Regions from separate parts of the Homo sapiens genome. Here all the other regions are reported to be linked to region 1. The links are microRNA targets in miRTarBase. Many come from high-throughput screens and were not tested one by one. Region 1 holds a microRNA gene; each other region holds the end of a gene's coding sequence.
Evidence for each region. Region 1 holds the annotated microRNA hsa-miR-6876-5p (CAGGAAGGAGACAGGCAGUUCA, at 2,825-2,846, shown strand). A microRNA usually pairs through its seed, bases 2 to 8, with sites in the 3' UTR of a target mRNA and lowers its output. Matches are read on the target gene's strand: a 7mer-m8 pairs with bases 2 to 8, a 7mer-A1 pairs with bases 2 to 7 and ends in A, and an 8mer does both.

Region 1 (4,150 bases):
CAGAACAAGACTCCATCTCAAAAAGCTAAAACAAGCTGCTGCATGCTGAGATGACAGCCCCATTTCTGCAGCTAACACTTGGGTTTTGTTGTTTGTTTGTTTTTTCTTGTTTTTTTTTTTTTTTTTTTTTTTTTGAGACGGAGTCTCATTCTGTCACCCAGGCTGGAGTGCAGTGGCGCAATCTCGGCTCACTGCAACCTCGGCCTCCCAGGTTCAAGCAATTCTCCTGCCTCAGCCTCCCAAGTAGCTGGGACTACAAGGACCTGCCACCAAGCCCAGCTAATTTTTTTTTATTTTTATTTTTAGTAAAGACGGGGTTTCACCACGTTAGCCAGGATGGTCTTGATCTCCTGACCTCGTGATCCACCCGCCTCGGCCTCCCAAAGTGTTGGGATTACAGGCGTGAGCCACCGCGTCCGGCTTGTTTGTTTTTTAAGACGGAATCTCACTCCCTCACCTAGGCTGGAGTTCTGTGGCACTGTCTCTGCTCCCTCTAACCTCTGCTTCCCAGGTTCAAGTGATTCTCCTGCCTCAGCCCCCTGAGTAGCTGGGATTACAGGTGTACATCACCACACCCAGCTAATTTTTTTTTTTTTTTGTATTTTTGGGAGAGGGGGGGTTTCACAATGTTGGCCAGGCTGGCCTCAAACTCCTGACCTCAAGTGATCTGCCCAACTTGGCCTCCCAAAGTACTGGGATTACAGGCATAATTACCGTGCCCAGTCAGCACTTGACTTTTCTTTTTTAAAAATGTCATTAATATTCTTGCCAGTTGTTTGTTGGCAACATTAATATTGTTGCCAGTTGTATGTAAGGACCTCCTGGGAGAGCGGTTTTAAGGAGAATCTAAAGTCAGCTCGGTATTTCCAACAGTTCCTAAAAGAGCAAAATCATGTGTTCCTTAATCTTTAATTAGAACAATCTGCAAGTGGTTCATTAATTAGAGAATTTTGTCTTTAAAACAGGAACCTCAGGAAGTAACAAGCAAGTAGGAAAAGATGACCCTTTTAAAAGAAATTATTCTTCTTTAGTCTATACTTATTGCATGACCTTAAAAACCAGGGGACAGGGAAACAGCAATGTGTTGGATCCCACAGGAGAGCTGGTTACATGCATCCCTTCTCAACCCCACGTTCAGTGATATCACATTAGTAGCTGGAAATTGACCATGGTGGAAGTCTTTACACCAGGGTAACTGGCAAACATGATAAAGCAAGCGTTTTTTTGTTTTGTTTTGTTTTGAGATGGAGTCTCACTCTTTCGCCCAGGCTGGAATGCAGCAGCATGAACTTGGCTCACTGCAACCTCCACCTCCCAGGTTCAAGCAATTCTCCTGCCTCAGCCTCCCAAGTAGCTGGGATTACAGGTGTGCACCACCATGCCCAGCTAATTTTTTTTGTAATCTTAGTAAAGCCAGGGTTTCACCATGTTGGCCAGCTTGTCTCAAGCTCCTGACCTCAGGTGATCCACCCACCTTGGCCTCCCAGAGTGCTGGGATTATAGGCATGAGCCACTGCACCTGGCCAAGCTGTTTTCTTTAGGGGGTAGGCTGGCAGAAGCCAGATTACTAGTATTCTGCTGGGAGAGGAGTGGGGCATGGAGGGGAAAAACTCTTACACTGATAAAATACTTTTCATTTTGTAAGTAGAGTCTAGCAAATAGCCACCAAGTGTTTCTGTCCCAAAGCTGATATAAACAGGAGGTCCAGCACCTGGGCCTTCCCAATAAACTCAAGACTTGCTAGAGTGAGGCAGCCACGGAGACTTCTTCTGGGGCTAACTACCTGGTCAGGGGCTCCCAGAGTGTAACCTCATTTTATGTATGTATATTGCCTGGAGATCTGAAGACCAGCAGGACTCCTCAACGTTAAACAAGTTGAGTGGATTGTTGGTGGGAGAGCCTTCCTGGCTTTGCCCCTGGCTAGTTATGTAACTGGACAAATGAGTGGCCTTCTCTAAGTCTCAGCCTCCAGTTCTGTGGAAGGAAGGACTTGAGCTAGATCGTATCAGTAGCCTCCTTGGGCTCTGATATTTTCTGACCCTATGAATTTGCACTTTGAAATTGCAAATGTTCCTAAGACACAATTGGAGGTAGAGGTAATGCCTGCAAAAGGTTAGTGAATGCTCATAAGTAGAAAACATTTATTACTAAAGCAAATTATTACTAAACATTTTAATATGCTTTGATCACTTTTTAAGGATACAGAAAAGGTAATTGAGATAGTAAAGATAAGGTGTTTGAGCAGAAGAGCAAGCATGCACTGGATAGTTCTACTTAGAGTGTGATCACGGTTAACAGTCATTTCTGTAGCATTCAGAGTACCTGAACTCATTATAAAATGTGTTACAATAGCAAAGATCTCAGAAGACATAATAGGTCATACCTTACTTTCTGAAATCCACACGCCTGCACAGACATGAGCAGAATGTCATTGACATGTACTAGGGAAGCTCAGTATTTATAGGAACTTTATTTATAGGAACTTCTTTCAGTAAATTTTCTCCATTAGGTGAAAAAATTTTTGAAAAAAAAAATGTATAACTTGCTTGGTTTTATTTGTTTCATATGACCCTCAATTTCGTGCATTAGGTTGGCGTTTTGAAAAGCTAGAGAAATTGTTAAATAATTTAAACATTTTGCTAAGTTCCCACCTTCACCTGTGAGAAGGGTCATTTTTTTTTTTTTTAATTCATTCATCTGCGCATTGAACAAGGGTAAAGTTCCGTGCCTAAAACCAGGTGTTCCTGGGTGGCCTGGAGGGGCTGCATCCCTGCAGGGCTGATTGCAGAGCTTAGAGCTACTGGTACTGGTCGAGGAAGAGTTGCAGGAAGGAGACAGGCAGTTCAGGAGGTGGCACTGCTGTGTGTGAGCTGTCTGTGTTTTCCTTCTCAGAGTGCAGAGAAGTGCTGCTGCCACTGCTGACAGACCAGCTCAGCGGCCAGTTAGATGACAACTCCAACAAGCCTGACCACGAGGCAAGCTCGCAGCTTCTGAGCAACATCCTGGAGGTGCTGGACAGGAAGGATGTGGTGAGTTGAGTCATCACTGATGCTGCACAGAGTTCACACTGTCCCCTTTGCACCAGACAGGAGTGACTCCGTGGCCTTCCTATTCTCAGGTAGTTTCCAGCTCCGGTATTAGGGCAGGCTGTGCCCATTTTAGAGATAATTAGGGAGGCCAGAGCCTCCAGTGCAAAGTCAGATTACTGCTGGGGCCTTCTGCAGGCTGATTTTCCTGGCTTGCCCAGTGTGCGCACTATTGAGATCCCTGTGACTTTTTTTTTTTGAGAGGGAGTCTCGCTCTGTCGCCCAGGCTGGAGTGCAGTGGCGCGATCTCGGCTCACTGCAAGCTCCGCCTCCCGGGTTCACGCCATTCTCCTGTCCCAGCCTCCCGAGTAGCTGGGACTACAGGCGCCCGCCACCACGCCCGGCTAATTTTTTTGTATTTTTAGTAGAGACGGGGTTTCACTGTGTTAGCCAGGATAGTCTCGATCTCCTGACCTCGTGATCCACCCATCTCGGCCTCCCAAAGTGGTGGGATTACAGGCATGAGCCATCGCGCCCAGCCCCTGTGACTATTCTTAAGAATCAAAGACCTGACTGGGCATGGTGGCTCAGGCCTGTAATCCCAGCACTTTGGGAGGCCAAGTCAGGAGGATCACTTGAGTCCAGGAGTTCAAGACTGACCAGCCTGGGCAACTTAGTAAGACTTTGTCTCTCTAAAAAATAATAATAATAATAAAAAATAAAGAATCAAAGGCCTTTCTGTTTTTATGCAGACACCTCTTCCTTCTTATCCTCTGATGCCTAACAACCTGATATTTCTGAGCTGCTGAGAAGTTCTCATTTCCATATCCTCTTGGACACTGATACTTTCTCTGGAACCTAATGGAAATTATGTTTTCTCATCTTGCGTTTTCTCTGTGACCTGGCCCCCATCCCTCTTGAAAACACAGGGCTAAGGCCGGGCGTGGTGGCTCACGCCTGTAACCCCAGCACTTTGGGAGGCCGAGGTGGATGGATCACGAGGTCAGGAGATCGAGACCATCCTGGCTAACACAGTGAAACCCTGTCTCTACTAAAAATACCAAAATTAGCTGGGCGTGGTGGCACGCGCCTATAGTCCCAGCTACTCGGGAGGCCGAGGCAGG
Region 2 (4,000 bases), not on the chromosome of region 1:
AAGGAACAAAATAATGTTTTTATTAAAAATTGTACCCATAGCACCTCTCTGTCTTCCTACAAGTTGTTTCTTTTTTTCTTTTAATGAGATCTGTTTTTCTGCACAATTTCAGAAAAAGTTGTAGGGAACGTTTAGGGACCTGACGGCTCCCTAAACCAGAAGGTGACGCGGGAAGGAGACGTGTCCCAGCGGGCAGGCTCAGCTCATGAGTTTCCACGTTGTCCTCACCTTTCAGACTGGATCCATGCTACCAGGACGCTGACCCACGGGGAGCCACACTTAGGTACGCAGACGGGTTGCTCGTCAGGAGGATAGCTACACTGTGTGCCAAGAATGCGTAAGAAATAAAAACCATGCTACGAACCATTAGGCAAACATCATGCTTCAGCCCAGTCACAGTTAGATACAAACACGGCCTCCGAAGACCTGTACAGAGTGAGCCACCTCCCGGGGCTGTGGAGGCGCGTTCCGTGTGTGGCCATCTGGGTCCCCTCTCCCTGGGGCCCCTCGTTTTTTGGCTACAGCATTGAGTGAAGTGCGCCTTATAAAAGCAGGCTGGGAGAGAGGCTGAAGGCGAGGCTGGGGAGAGGGGCTTGGGCTGGACCGATTCACCCAGAAGGTGGCCGTGCAGGAGGCCGAGGGGGTGTGGCCTGGCAGCTCTCTCTGGGCTCACCTGCCTGGAATCTCTGCCCTGGCACCCCAGGAGGAGGGAGCTCTGCACACCCATCCCTGTGGCTCAGACGGAGCCTCCTGGCCACTCCGTGACCACATCCTTGCAGGGTGGGGCCGAAGCAATCTGAAATGAGCCACGTTGGGGGTGGGTGGGGAGACTCAGCCACTGCTGTCATGAGGCATCCGCAAGGCATGACTTTCAGCACGGCAGGAGAGAGCGGGAGCACATTCCATCTAGCCTGGCTTAGAGACATTTTGTTTGTCCTCTTTTTAAAACCGAGATTAAAATCCAACCTCCATCTTCCTAGGCTGTGATTTTCTTTTCCTTCCCTGAAGATAAGGAGTTAGGAACTGTTGCTTCTCAAATGCCGCATTGCTCTGGGAGGCCAAAATCTACCTGGAAACATCCAGCTCTGTTCCTTTGCACAGGTGGTTCTCATGGGACAGAGTCCCTCCGAGGCATGGGCGCTGTCCTAAGCACAGTCCAGCAGCAGCCAGGAGGCCGGCGTAGCCTCGGACAGGCCGCTCCGTACAGATCAAGGTTTACTAAGAGTGGAGGGGAGACGGAAAACATGAGCTTGAAACAGAAGTGTCATGATGTTGTATCGAAAACCCGAGAGCAACAAACATATCTCGAATCTGCTCATCCTCAACCTAAGACGTCTCAACACTCTCCCTGGCATGTAAAGCCACATCCTCATGGCTGCAGAGAGCAGTCATCAGAGTGCACAGAAAGCAGCGCTGGCCATGGTCTCCATTTATCGCTTCTCTTCCAAGAAATTCCAGTGCTCACATCCTGGCTTCCCGCCCACTTCGCCCTCTCCGGGGCCGAGGGGAAGGAGGTGGCACTGTCCACTGTGGTGAGTCTCATCCGGGGAACTGTGGGTTGCGATTCTCATGCAGAAGTGGCTTTGGGCAGAGCATCTAGGATTTTTGGTTTAGAATATTTCCCCCTCCACTCAGAAAAAGGAGGAGAAAAGGAAGAAGGAATAGGGGAGAGAGGAAGGGAGGGAGGGAAAGAAGGGAGGGAAGGAAGGAGGAAAGAGAGGAAGGAAGGGAGGGAAGGAGGGAGGGAGGGAGGAAAGAAGAGAGGAAGGGAGGAAGGAAGGAAAGGAGGGGTAAAGGAAAGGAAGGAGGGGAAGGAAGGGAGGAGAGAAAAAAGGAAACTTGCCATACCCTCTAATTTTGGAAAGACTGAAAAGGGGTTTTCCAGCCTATACAAAACTCTCCTTGGTCTCCTGGGGCCATACTCAGCAACGCTGACAGCACAGAATCCAGGCAATATCCACACCCTCTGCCCATGGAGGTGCACAAAACATCTAGGTAAGCAGGGGCCACACTTTCTGCATGTGGCCAGGAGACTGGCTCCTGGGTGGCACTGGTCAGATACTGCTCAGTTGTCCCCTACCCTCAGGTCACTGGGGGAACGGCACCTGCCCGTTTGCCGTGCACTGGGGGGCACTGACAGGGTGGTCTTGAGTCTTGTGTGTGTCACGCTGCTGCTGGTGAGGGGGCACTTACAGGGACCCGGGGCACACACGCCAGTGGGCACCAGCAGTGCTCCCGTTCCATCCAGACCCGGGACCCGGGCTGAGGGGTGGACCATGGCAGCCCAGTCGTCTGTTGCAAAGATGACGTGAGGGGCTGGAGGCATGGCCATCTCTGAGCTGTTAAGTTTTCCAAAGTAGTTCATACTCTTTTCATCTAGCTGAAAAATTTAAACCAAACAATGACAATTTTAAATAAAAAAAAGAAACATTTCCAAAAAACCTGTTAAGGCTAAAAGCTGGCCTCGGACTGGGAGAGGGGGCAGCAGCAGCGCCAGTGGTGGAGAAGCGGTGGCTGCTGCGAGCAGCCAGCAGAAGCCAGGACAGAGGGAGGGGACGGCCTGGTGTGCACGAGGCGAGTCGGGAGCGTGTGTTCTCAGAGCTGTTTTGCTTTATTTGCAGACACTGTTGCTTTTCATCTTTCCCATGTACAAAGCTGAACAATTAATAAAAAGGCACCTGGAGACAGCAAAGACGCATTCATTTCATGTGACATAGTTTAAAAAAAGATAAAAAGATTTTAAAAATACTCTGGTTAACAATGCACGCTTCCTACGTAACAAGCAATTCTGGAGACGCCGTCCCGTGTCCTCGTGTCCCGCGGAGTTGACCGTGTGCTGTGTTCGGGGAAGGAGAGGGCCAGCGTGGTGGCTTCCAGCCCTAAGAGGCTTCCCTCTCCCTCGCTGTCAGGTGAGAAGGAAGGGGGAAAGACAGGCAGAAAAGCCTGAGGACCGCACCACTGCAGTGACACAGACAGTGACGGCTGAGCCACACCTTAGCATCCCTGCCTGGCCGTCAGGAACCTGAAAGCCGACTCCTTGACTAGACACTGCCAAGTGAGAACATTTCAGAAACAGATGAAGTTGGGACAAAACGCACTGAGCCCAGGGAAAAACGTTTGCTCTTCAAACCCCAGGAGCCGCCGAGGATGTCCTGCGTTGAGAAGGGTGTGAGCCGCTGGTTCTCTGGAAGAGGAGGTAGAAAGAGACGGGGGCCGGCCGGGGCAGCTCTGAGATCTCACCTGACCCTCCACTCCCTCTCCCCGCTTGACCCTTCCTAGTTGGTCTTGAAGACGGAGAAACCCAGGGCTGGGGAGGTCTGAGGTCCTCCCAGGCCCCGGAGGTGCCAAGCCATTGCACCAGTGAAATACACCTTCTCTTAAAAAGAAAAGAAAAAGAAACAAACCTGCTTCCTGCAGCGAAGTTACAAAAAGCCGTTTAAAAAAACCTTCCTAATTGAAATCTAGTGTCCACAAGTAGGTAAAATCATCACTTATCAGATTTTTTTCTTTTTAAACAAAAACTTCAGCTCAGTTATTGGAGTTGATTGTCTTAACAAAAATAGACTCCGGAAAGTTGCCTCCGTTCCGCCCTGAGGGAGGCGCGGCGCTTTGCTCACACGAAGGAGGAGAAGCCGGTGAGCGGAGTTCGCGCGCCGGGGCCAGCGGGGGTGTAGACGCCGCCCGCGCTCTGCGTGGTGATGACCGGGTGCAGCTGCGCGCCCGCCTCGGAGCCCGCCACCGCCTCGTACCTGTGCGGCGCAGGTGCGCGGCCCTGGGCCCTGCGCTTCCATGAGTTGTAGTAGGTGGGGTCGCTCATGTAGTGGTTCACGAAGGAGTGCTTGGGCAGCGCGTCCTCGTAGTCAGAGTCCGTGGCCTGCGGGGAGCGGGAGAGAAGGTGTGAGTGCAGGGCAGGGCGCAGGGCCCGGAGCGTGCTGGGCAGGAGGCCTGGCGGTGGGGGCACCTCCCCAGGGGCGTGTGTCGCGGTCTCCAGCCCTCTCCC
Region 3 (4,000 bases), not on the chromosome of region 1:
TGCCTAATGAAAAAGGAATGGCAAATTGAATTATTTTGACACATAATCTTTAAGAAACATAAAAATGTTTAAGGCTGGAAGTTATATTTCTTTTCAATGGACATTAAAGGTGACCCACTAAACGGAAAAACTAAGAAAAGTCATTGAGTTTTTAGTGAAAACATGGTCTTCAGAAAAACTGTTCTTAAAGATAATCTTCACAATGAAGAATTCTGTTAAAAAGTTAAAGAACATGCAGAAGAAAACCTCTGCAAGCCTGGTATTTTAGAGATAGTGCCATATGTATAAAGCCATAGGCATATACGTAACTGAAGAAGGCAAGCCATCCAACACCACCAGATTAAGTTGTTAAGATACCTGGGCAGTAGGGAAGCAGTCAGGGATAATTAACAACAACAACAAAAAACCTATCAAACAATCAAAACAAATGAAACAGAAAACCCTATTAACAAAACCTAAAAACAAGCTGGGCTTAATAGCTTGCATTTCAAAACTGAGGCCATGGAATTATACTGGTGAAAACAAAGTAAATAACAAATATGAATGCCAAGTCAAAATAATTTGCCATAAAAGATGAACAACAAAAAAAAACCCTGTTAATGTTCAAATAGATAATTTAAAAGTACCTGACTGCTAAAAACAAAATTTACAGAGTACATACCCATATATCCTAAAAGGGACACCAGCCCTCATAAATGAGCTTTTAAGAGTTTACTTGGCCGGGCGCGGTGGCTCACGCCTGTAATCCCAGCACTTTGGGAGGCCGAGGCGGGCGGATCACGAGGTCAGGAGATCGAGACCATCCCGGCTAAAACGGTGAAACCCCGTCTCTACTAAAAAAAAAAAATACAAAAAATTAGCCGGGCGTAGTGGCGGGCGCCTGTAGTCCCAGCTACTTGGGAAGCTGAGGCAGGAGAATGGCGTGAACCCGGGAGGCGGAGCTTGCAGTGAGCCGAGATCCCGCCACTGCACTCCAGCCTGGGCGACAGAGCGAGACTCCGTCTCAAAAAAAAAAAAATAAATAAATAAAAAAAATAAAAAAAAAAAAGTTTACTTACTGTGAGTATACGCATGACATAAATTTTCAGGCTGAGGAATAACTGATTAAAAAAAAAAAAAAAATTGGGAGTTCGGAGAGGGGAAATAACTCAAAGTCCCTTTAAAATATTTGCAAGAACTCTTTAAGTTTCTCTACACTTTGATGGTTGAATAATTTTCTGAAGAAAATTCTTAATTAAATCCTTGCATAAAATATAAATTAGAATAAAGTAAAATCATTACAGTCCTTTGCCAGTATAGTTACACCAAGAAGTTACATCTTCAACCTATAAACATTTGTTGATTCCTAATCATATCTTAATTGTTTATAAATTACTGGCTTAAATTATTACCAAAAAAGTAGGACAAGTCTTAAGACCTTGAAGAATTCCACTAAAAACAGATGGTAAAAATAAAATGTTCTACTTTAGTTAATAGTATTATACAAAGGTTAATTTCTTAAGTTTTATAAATGTTCTATGATAACGTAAGATTTTAACATTAAGATTAATATAAGACATAAAGAACTGTTGTATTTTTACAACTTTTCTGTAAACCTAAAACTAGGTCAAAGAAGTTAAATAAAGGCTCAGTTTATTAGGATCTTACTTCCTTTATACTAGTAAATGTGCTATGAAAGAAAAATAGCATTTTAGGTTTCCCATCTTTAGTTACCAAGTATATATATAATATACCTAACTTTGACTGCTTTGCTATAGTAATTATTTTTAATGCTAAAAAAGACAAAGCAAATTTCTAGAGAAATAAATCAATAAGCACTTTTTATTAACTTTTTTGACAAACCGATAGTAAAACATATGCTACCTAACGATAACTGTGTCCCTTTATGTATGAGTCTAAGAGAAATATTCGGATTTTTATCTGGACAAGAAATTCAAAGGCTCCTTAAGAAGAAAGTAAATACCATGGTCACTAATGTAACCAGACTAAATATAAAAGCTACATATGTATGTGTGTGTGTGTGTGTATAAATCAATGTTTTGATCAATGTAACTAATCTGAGGTTACAATAACTCACTGCTTCAAATAATATTTCAATTACATGTAACAGATTAAGATACTGTTTAGGGGAAAACAGCCTCAGAAGGAAGTATGAACAAAAAGGGATATTAATCATTACCTTTAATCAAACTAATTATCAACCTTTCCCCCAACCCATAAAGACTTCATGTCTCTAAATGGTTCCTAAATCATGGAAGATAACTTGAAAAATTTTAAATACATCTCCAGGTATCAGATGCTTATGTACTCCATGTGGGTCCAACTTTTACTGCCCAGAGTTTCTTGTCATGGTAATGTAACATCATGAAAGTCTGGTTGCCAGATCTTTATGTTTTTATTTGTAACAGAGCTAAACCTTTTAACAATTATATTAACTACAACTAAGTTATTTGCTAATGGTAGTAGAATGATACATATGTTTTATTCACGAAAATAGTACTTCTGCAAATTTTTCTTTGTAAGAATTCCATAAATACCAAGGAAAAGAAAAGACTCAAGGGGTTTGGGAAATAAACCCCTTTTAATTTTAAATCTACATAAGTTTAATTTATTCCCAAACTTTCTAAGTTCTTCCAGAGTTCTGGCCTTCAGAATATTTCCTAATTTTTCTTCTTGAGTTCTGCACTAACTCAAAACCTATCCAAACGATCTAATTCTGTATTACCTATATTTAATATAAAGTACAATATATAGTCAACATTGTATCACTAGAATTGTGAAGCTCTTCATGACTTTAAAAAAAAACTCCAAAACAATTAAGCTATTTTTATTTAACATGTAATAGTCATAAAGCAACTCCATATATTTAGTTTTCTGATATCCTAATGTATTTCCACAAACCTTTTAAGTCTACAATTTTATATAGTTTTCCATCAGGGAGGCAAGATATATATAATTTCTTTTTATATTTAACTAAAGGTTTTAAGAGGGCTTAGTCTCTAAATCAGTAACAATTAGTCATAACACCATACAAACACATTTAAATATTCAGGAAAGAGGTTGTTAAGATTATTGCTTAGTCTTATAAAATGGTGAATTTTAACCAAATTGATACCTCTGTAATCTTATTTATGTTTCCTATAACATCATACTGCTTGGCAAGTAATGTAAGTTTTGACATAATTTAAAAATTCAAGTAGTTGTAAACAAATTCTAATTTGTTAAACAATTCATATATTCCCCTTTAGTTACTATACTACCTCAGAATTAATCCTCCTTAAAAAAGTAATCATCCCACATAGAAAAAACTGCAGAGCTTCATCTCTTCCTTAAATATTTTCAAGTACTGTAAGAACACAAATCCATGAAAAAACTGATTAAAATTTGACATTTCATCTTGCTTTACTAATTATGGAATAATACAAAAACATAAAAAAAATGTTCCTTAATATTTCTTTGCTTAACAGAGAAATACAAAGAAATACTGCAATTATGGTTATGGGCTACTTTCCAGCCTCTTCAAGTATAGGACACAACTATGGTTCCTACCAGTAGGGAGAAATGAATAATCAATCTTACATAACACAAAAGAAAGATGAGAGGCACAAAAAGACAAACTGACTTTGGCTTTTAAGAACCTAATGTTAACCCTGAAATGCCACATTCAGTAACACAACAACAAAACAAAAGATTACAGCAGCAAGCCACCACTTCACACAGTATTAAAAATTCGGAAATAATGTAATAGCCTTCCTTCCATCTCCCACTCAATCTGTTGTGGCATCTTTTTGTTTTTCCTGCTTTTTAGCTGCAGGCAGTTCAAGGCTTGCCCACTGCATCGGTTCAGCTTTTCTCATAGTGATTTCAATCTTTGTTGCAGTCATAGTTACATAACTTCGCTTTACATCAATCACCTGTAACATATCAAAGAGAATTACAGGAAACCTCAGTAGTTTTATTAGTCTCAGAGGAAAACATCAGACTTGCTTATGCCAATAAT

Region 2: the mRNA of SDK1 is a reported target of hsa-miR-6876-5p. Seed matches in the 3' UTR shown: 7mer-m8 at 2,916-2,922, 7mer-m8 at 1,813-1,819, 7mer-m8 at 1,800-1,806, 7mer-m8 at 1,775-1,781, 7mer-m8 at 1,771-1,777, 7mer-m8 at 1,763-1,769 and 4 more.
Region 3: miRTarBase lists CHORDC1 as a target of hsa-miR-6876-5p. The part of its 3' UTR that is shown has no 7-base or 8-base seed match.

Annotation. Positions count from the first base shown.
Region 1 is chr8:25,342,583-25,346,732 of GRCh38, forward strand. It overlaps MIR6876 (microRNA 6876), which reads left to right and starts at 2,820; the gene lies at 2,820-2,892. DOCK5 (dedicator of cytokinesis 5) reads left to right here. Exons shown (of 52, transcript NM_024940.8): 26 at 2,893-3,029. RefSeq lists enhancers at 2,769-2,828, 2,811-3,105.
Region 2 is chr7:4,264,998-4,268,997 of GRCh38, reverse strand. SDK1 (sidekick cell adhesion molecule 1) reads right to left here. Exons shown (of 45, transcript NM_152744.4): 45 at 1-3,874. The coding sequence ends at 3,614. Among named protein-coding and RNA genes, the nearest start is that of FOXK1, 420 kb to the left of the region's middle.
Region 3 is chr11:90,198,638-90,202,637 of GRCh38, forward strand. CHORDC1 (cysteine and histidine rich domain containing 1) reads right to left here. Exons shown (of 11, transcript NM_012124.3): 11 at 1,792-3,914. The coding sequence ends at 3,768. Among named protein-coding and RNA genes, the nearest start is that of CHORDC1, 22 kb to the right of the region's middle.